Linked DNA regions of Homo sapiens. The protein of the gene in region 2 interacts with the protein of the main gene of each other region in a biochemical or structural test. Each region holds a gene or a part of one and is shown on either strand. Other genes may lie near its edges. The genes, in order: EPS15L1 and FCHO1.

The links.
Region 1: the proteins of FCHO1 (region 2) and EPS15L1 form a complex in vitro, tested with the Homo sapiens proteins (one study listed by BioGRID).

Annotation. Positions count from the first base shown.
Region 1 is NC_000019.10:16,465,196-16,469,102, reverse strand, and holds part of EPS15L1 (epidermal growth factor receptor substrate 15-like 1), read left to right. Parts: intron 1-3,907.
Region 2 is NC_000019.10:17,775,257-17,779,163, forward strand, and holds part of FCHO1 (F-BAR domain only protein 1), read left to right. Parts: intron 1-199; coding exon 200-257; intron 258-726; coding exon 727-905; intron 906-990; coding exon 991-1,015; intron 1,016-1,378; coding exon 1,379-1,430; intron 1,431-2,880; coding exon 2,881-2,972; intron 2,973-3,352; coding exon 3,353-3,628; intron 3,629-3,907. UniProt on the Homo sapiens protein: Functions in an early step of clathrin-mediated endocytosis. Has both a membrane binding/bending activity and the ability to recruit proteins essential to the formation of functional clathrin-coated pits.

The DNA.
Region 1 (3,907 bases), 1.3 Mb from region 2:
TGGTCTGGGCCATTCTACTTCCTACTTGCCCACTCCCTCCCACTTAATCCCACGCCACTGTGGAAGTCATCTTTTTGATTTTTGAGACAGGGTCTCGCTCTGTCCCCCAGGCTGGAGTGCAGTGGTAGGATCATAGCTCACTGCAACCTCAAACTCCTGGGCTCAAGCAATTCTCCCACCTTGGCCTCTCAAGTAGCTGGGACTACAGGAGCGCAGCACCAATCATACCCAGCTAATTAAACAATTTTTTTTTTGAAGAGATGAAGTCTTGCTATGCTGCCTAGGCAGGTCTTAAACCCCTAGCCTCAAGCAATCCTTCTATCTCAGCCTCCTAAAGTATTGGAATTACGGTGTCAGCCACTGCATCTGGCTAGGATTCATCTTCTAAAACATATTCCCCTGTTCCAAAAACCTTTCACAGCTCCCATTCCCCTTCCTCCAAAAGAACTCAGTTTATGGCTGGGCGCTGTGGCTCATGCCTATAATCCCAGCACTTTAGGAGGCTGAGGTGGATGGATTGCTTGAGGCCAGGAGCTCGAGACCAGCCTGGCCAACATAGCAAAACCCTGTCTGTACTAAAAATACAAAAGTTAGCCAGGCATAGTGGCAAACGCCTATAATCCCAGCAACTTGGGAGGCTGAGGCACAAGAATCGCTTGAAACCAGGCGGCGGAGGTTGCAGTGAGCTGAGATCGCGCCACTGCACCCCAGCCTGGGCAACAGGGTGAGACTCAGTCTCAAAAAAAGTCAGCTTTGATGACCTTAGTAAGCCCTGAATCGACTCCACCTAACCTTGCTGGGTCCCTTTCCTGCACTTCTGGCTCTTGGCAACACTTTCTAGCCTCAGCATCCTTAGCTGTGTTGCTCCGGTTGCTAGAACATCACTGTGAGCTCCTGCCGTATGCTGCCTGCCCTGAAGGACGGTCTTTGAGGCCTCCCCTGTGTTGTCCTCCCTTAGCCCCACCCGAATGAGAGTTCTCTCCCTTGTACCTTCCGTGGGTCCCTTTTGTGACCGCTGTACCTAGGAAGCGCGTGGTAACTGGGCTCAGTGATGAGGAGAGACTGCCCTGGGCCCAAAGAGCTACACCTTCCTCCTTTCCCCCTTGTTATGTGTTCTTCATCCAGGAGCTTTTGCTGTATTTCAGTAGGTGCCTCCATTCTAGGAGGCTTTTATTCCCCTTTTACAAGTGAGGAAACCAAGACCCACAGAAATAGAGTAACTTGCTGAAGTCTCATAGTTGGTGGGCGCAGAGCTGAGGTCACACCTGCGTCCTCCTGCCGCAGAGCCCTGCTGTTCCAGATGGCCTGCTGGGCACCTCTCCCAGAGCAGCACCCGGCCAGTGTGTCTGGAATGAATGCTGAGTGGCTCGGACACTTACTTGTCCTCTTGTCCCTTGTTTCTTTTCTTCCTCTGAAATAAGTGCTAGTCTATCTTAGTAGAATGCTAATGGCAATGCAGTCTAAATTGATGAGAACGAAGTTTTAGAGTAAAATCCACTCCTGAAAGATCCAGAATTCCCTGACTGTCACTTATTGACCTGCACTGGCCTGTTTTTTTTTTGTTTTTGTTGTTGTTGTTGTTTTTTCGACTAAATAGATTCTCCCTGGGCAAGACCCCTCCACCTCCATTCTGAACTTTAAAACAACTTTCCAGGCCGGGTGCAGTGGCTGACGCCTGTAATCCTAGCACTTTGGGAGGCTGAGGCAGGTGGATCACCTGAGGTCAGGAGTTTGAGACCAGCCTGGCCAACATGGTGAAACCTCATCTCTACTAAAAATACAAAACATTAGCCTGGCGTCCTGGCGGACGCCTGTAATCCCGGCCACTCGGGACCCTGAGGCAGGAGAATCACTTGAACCCAGGAGGCGGAGGTTGCAGTGAGCCAAGATCACTCCACTGCACACTCCAGCCTGGGCAACAAAGTGACACTACGTCTCAAAAAAAAAAAAAAGAAAAGAAAAGCAGGCACCATCAGGTGCAGTGGTGCCTGCTTTTCAATGTTTAGGTCCTTAGATGTTTGTTTGGATTCCCAGATATTCCTTCACTGCCCTCAGTCCTGCAAATACTTTCTGTACCTTAGTTTTCTCATCTGCAGAATGGTACTGTGGACTCGCTTGACCTGCTTTGTCACAGTAGAGTGTCAGGACCCTGCCGTGTGACGCATGTGCTCTCAGTGCTTTCCTTTTTTTTTTTTTTTTGAGACAGAGTTTCACTCTTGTCACCCAGGATGGAGTGCAATGGCGCTGTCTTGGCTCACTGCAACCTCTGCCTCCTGGATTCAAGCGATTCTCCTGTCTCAGCCTCCTGAGTAGCTGGGATTACAGGCGCCCACTACCACACCCAGCTAATTTTTGTATTTTTAGTAGAGATGGAGTTTCACTATGTTGCCTAGGCTGGTCTCGAACTCCTGACCTCAAGTGATCTGTCTGCCTCAGCCTCCCAAAGTGCTGGGATTACAGGCAGGAGGCACCGCGCCTGGCCCTCATGCCTGCCTTTTGTAGATCACACTGTTCGTTCAGTGAGTATTTATTTGGCATCTTCTTTTTGCTGGACACTTTCTGGGCAGTGGATGGAACAGTGAATCTGAAGGCAGTGCCGCCTCACGGGGCTGACATCGTTGGGAGGGGCCCAGATATAAAGAAATGAGCCCAATGTGTAGTGCATTCGGTGGGGATTGATGCTGTGAGATGAGTAGAGCAGGGCAGGTTCCGATCTGATGATGGAGGTCAGGAAAGGTCTCACCACCAGGCTGGAAGGACTGAGTAAAGAAAACATCATAGATTGCCTGGTTCATCCTCCCGGTCACTCTGGCCAGTATTATCTTCAGTGTATAGGGGCAAGAGGGGCAGATCACTGGAGGCCAGGAAGGGCAGATCACTGGAGGTCGAGAGTTCAAGACCAGCCTGGCCAACATGCTGAAACCCTGTCTCTACTAAAATACAAAAATTAGCCAGGCGTGGTGGCACATGCCTGTAGTCCCAGCTCCTCAGGAGGCTGAGGCAGGAGAATTGCTTGGACCTGAGAGGTGGAGGTTGCAGTGAGCCGAGATTGCACCACTGTACTCCAGCCTGGGTGACAGAGCAAGACTCTGTCTCAAAAAAAAAAAAAAAAAAAATAGATAAAGTGAGGCCAGAGATTGTTACGTCCCTTGCCCAAGTTTGTACCCAGTGAGCTCAGGCAGACATGGCTTTTCTGACACAGGTTCAGGCCTCTTCATTGCACCATAGTTTCTTGTCTTGGAAAGTTATTTTTTTGTTTGTTTGTTTTTAAGTTTATGACATCTCCTAACCTCATTTGTTTTTATACCTAGTTATTAGATATCATGTAGTCTGAGTTTTTATTTTATTACTTTAATCTCATCTCATTAAAAGGTAGAGAGGGACATGGAAAGGCCTGCTTATTGTCTTCCTTTTTCCTTTAGAGACAGGCTCTTGCTCTATTGCCTACGCTGGAGTACAGTGGTGCAATCAAAGCTCATTGCAGCCTCGACTCTTGGCCTCAAGTGAGCCTCCCACCTCAGCCTCTCAAGGAACTGAGACTACAGGCATGCAACACCACACCTGGCTAATTTTTAATTTTTTTGTAGAGACAGGATCTTGCTATGTTGCCCAGGCTGGTTTCGAACTCCTGACCTCAAGTGATCCTCCTGCCTCTGCCTCCAAAGCGCTGAGATTACAGGTGTGAGCCACCACTCCCAGCCAGTTGTCTTTAGGAGAATCCAAAGGTTTCCCTGCCAGAGTGGTAATCAGTGCTCCTGGCCCATGCAGAATTGAGTTGTCCAGGCCCGGCCCACAGCAGAGGCTCAGGTCACGGGTGGTCCAAGCTGCAGGAGGGGCAGATGACTGGCTTCCATTTGGGTGTTGGACATGGTTGTATGGAGGAGAGGGCGTGTTTGGTGTAGGCCAA
Region 2 (3,907 bases):
GGTGTGAATAATGTCCCTGCCGAAGCTCAGTTTGTCCCAGGAACCTGCCCACACACCCAGGGAAGACAGTCGTTGCCATCAGGGTTGGTTTTGAGGTCTGAGTCAAGGCCTGGGGGCAGGGCGGGGGGCGGTTGGCAGGGTGAGATGGAAGGTTCGATAGTGGGGCGCCTGACTCACTGCTGCCCCCTGACTCCCCTAGACATGTCCAGAGGTGGATGAAGAAGGTTTCACTGTCCGGCCTGATGTGACCCAGAACAATATCCTTCTGGCACCCCCTGGGGGCAGTTGTTGGCACAGCAAGGACAAAATTCTCCGTAATAACCAGTCCACCTTCAGCAGTCCTCTCTGTGTACATCCTGGAGAGAGTCTCCTTTGTGGATGAAGCCAACCTAAATGTAAACACCCACTCTATGGGGTCAGCACTGGGCAAGAGGGAGAGAGAAAAGGAGATCTAGCAGGGCTTCCTGGAGGAGGGGGCACCAGTGTTGGGGTTTTGCAGCCGAATAGGAGTTTGCCAGTTAGTTCTGGGCATGCTTGTGCAAAGGCTTCTCGGGGGGGGTGGGAGTGCTGGTGGGACATGGTGTCAGGACTGAAGGTGGCGCGTGGTGAGCGATGGGATTGGGCAGGACCTCGAAGGGTTTGAGCAGGGAGGGACGAGGCTGGATTGGAGAGCTGACTGGGGGAAAGCTTGTGTTGGGATTGGCTTGGACCTTGACTGCAGCCCACGCACGGCCGAGCCCTCCCGTTTCTCGTCCAGCGACTCCGACTTCGACGATGAAGAGCCCCGCAAGTTCTATGTGCACATCAAGCCTGCCCCGGCCCGGGCTCCAGCCTGCAGCCCCGAGGCAGCAGCGGCACAGCTCAGGGCCACCGCGGGCAGCCTCATCCTTCCTCCTGGCCCAGGGGTGAGGCGTGGGAGGGGTGCCCTGGGTGTTGCTAGAGAGGCTGGCTGGATGCATTCGTGTGTGATGTTGCCCACTTTGTCCACAGGGCACCATGAAACGCCATTCTTCACGTGAGTAGCCTTTGGTCTTCAGAGTGGGGAGGATCCTAAGGAAGGGAGGCTATGGGTTTGGGCTTGAATCATAACTCCGTTTTGTAACTTTGGGCAGGCTGCTTAACCACACTGACCTTCAGTCTCCTTTTCTGTAAAATGAGGTCATTATGAAATTAAGTGAGAGCTGAAAGGGGTAGCTGGGGCCAGGAGAAGCTAGCATCTGGAGACAGGCTCGCTTAGGCTTGAATCCATGTCTGCCTGATTTGCTGATCACCTTGGGCAACTGGCTGGACACCCCCGAGCCTCGGTCCCTTGGTCTGTGGAGTGGGGAGCATTGCAGGCAGGGTGACAAGAAGGCTGAAGGAGGTGCATCTCTTGTAGGGGACGCTGCTGGGAAACCCCAGAGACCTCGGTCTGCCCCCAGAACCAGCAGGTGGGTTCCACACGAGTGGGCAGGTGGGGGCTGTCCCCACCTCCTCCCTCCACCTCCCCATGTCTCCGCCTGGTGTTCTCTTGTCCCGGCTGGGAGTTGACGTCATGCTGGGGTTTTTTTGTTTTTGTTTTTGTTTTGAGACAGAGTCTCACTCTGTCACCCAGGCTGGAGTGCGATTTCAGCTCACTGCAACCTCCACCTCCTGAGTTCAAGCGATTTTCATGCCTCAGCCTCCTAAGTAGCTGAGATTACAGGCACCCACCACCACGCCCAGCTAACTTTTGTATTTTTAGTAGAGACAGGGTTTCACCATGTTGGCCCGGCTGGTCTCGAACTCCTGACCTCAAGTGATCTGCCCACCTCGGCTTGCCAAAGTGCTGGGATTACAGGCATGAGCCCTTGTGCCTGGCCCATGCTGGCTTTTGAGGGACCATTTAGTCATTCATTTGATGAACATTTATTGAGTGCCTGCTGTGTACCTGTGCTGTTCTAGGGTCTGGGTTCTGAGACAGGTCTCCCTTCTCAGAGTCACATTCTAGTGACTCCAGATTTTAAGAATAGCAAATAGGGCCAGGCGTGGCGGCTCACGCCTGTAATTCCAGCACTTTGGGAGGCCAAGGCAGGCGGATCACCTGAGGTCGAGAGTTCGAGACCAGCCTGACCAACATAAAGAAACCCCATCTCTACTAAAAATACAGCATTAGCCAGGCATGGTGGCACATGCCTGTAATCCCAGCTATTCGAGAGGGTGAGGCAGGAGAATCGCTTGAACCTGGGAGGCGGAGCTTGCAGTAAGCCACTGTTGTGCCATTGCATTCCAGCCTGGGCAGCAAGAGGAAACTCCGTCTCAAAAAAAAAAAAAAAAAAAAAAAAAAAGCAAATAAGTTAGAGCATATTCGATACTTCTAAGTGCTACGAAGAAACTAAAGCAGATGACGCGAAGACAGGAGGAGGTGACTTCCCTTGAGGTGGGGTTGGGAACCTCCCTGAGGGGGTGACTTGGAGCTAAGCCCCAAAGAGGAGCTAGGAGGTGACTGTGAAGAGAGCTGGGGAAATGGAACTCCAGACTGGGAACAGGCTGCACACAGTGGCTCACACCTGCAATCCCAGCACTGGCCAAAGCAGCCAGATCACTTGAGGTCAGGAGTTTGGGATCAGGCTGGCCAGCATGGTAAAACCCCGTCTCTGCTAAAAATACAAAAATTAGCCGGGCATGGTGGCAGGTGCCTGTAATCCCAGCTACTCTGGAGGCTGAGGCAGGAGAATCGCTTGAACGCAGGAAGCGGAGGTTGCAGCAAGCTGAGATCGTGCCACTGCACTGCAGCCTGGCCGACAGAGCAAGACTCCGTCTCAAAAAAAAAAAAGACTGGGAACAGCATGTGCAAAGGCCCCAGGGTGGGATGAGGCTTGGGAAAAATAGAAGCAGCCCTCTTGGCCTCACCCTCTCTAGCTGTGCAGAGAGATTGCAGTCAGAGGAGCAGGTGTCCAAGAACCTCTTTGGGCCGCCCCTGGAGTCAGCCTTTGACCACGAAGATTTTACAGGTGATGGGGATAAGGGATTGGAGGGCATGGGTGTGGCCGGAGGGAGGTTGGGTGGGGCCATTGCAGAGTTAGGCCAATGAGGTCCCCTGGAAGCCAGGCTGGAGGGAGGACTAGTCCGTGTAGGGGTGGGCGGGGCCAGAGTGCGCGTGGGAGGGGCCATAGATAGGGTGGGGCCTTGGCCAGTGGGCGGTGACTGAGTGGATGGGCCGGACATTTGTGGAGAGGGAAGTCACCAGAAGGTGTAGCCTTGGGGGCGTGCACAAGGACTTTGAATGGGGGCCCCCCTGACCTTCCCTCGACGTGGCCGTGGCCTGCAGGAGGATGGGCAGGGACTCTGAGTGGGCGAGGGTCGGAGCTGACCGCCCGCTTCCCTCCCCAAGGCTCTAGCAGCCTGGGCTTCACCTCCAGCCCCTCCCCTTTCTCCTCCTCGTCGCCCGAAAACGTGGAGGATTCCGGCCTGGACTCTCCGTCCCACGCGGCACCTGGCCCCTCCCCAGATTCCTGGGTCCCCCGCCCAGGCACCCCGCAGAGCCCGCCCAGCTGTAGGGCGCCACCCCCAGAGGCCAGGGGTATCCGGGCACCGCCTCTGCCAGACTCGCCGCAGCCCCTCGCCTCGTCTCCAGGCCCCTGGGGGCTGGAGGCCTTGGCCGGAGGAGGTGAGTCCAGCGGGCCTGGGCCTGAGAGTTGCTGGAACCCTGGGCGGGGGATTGAGCGCCTGCTTTGGGCAGGGCCTGATCAGGCTGCTGGAGACACAGCCAGGACCAGGCAGGCAGAACCTCCCACCGTTGCAGGGACAACAATGAGATGGACATTTAGCAAGGCAGGCGGTAGCGGGTGCCAGGTGGGGGCCCTCCCTGAGGAAGGGACATCTGAGCTGAGATTTGAGGGAGGTGAGGACAGAACCACGTGGACATGAGGGGAAAGGCGTGCTGGGC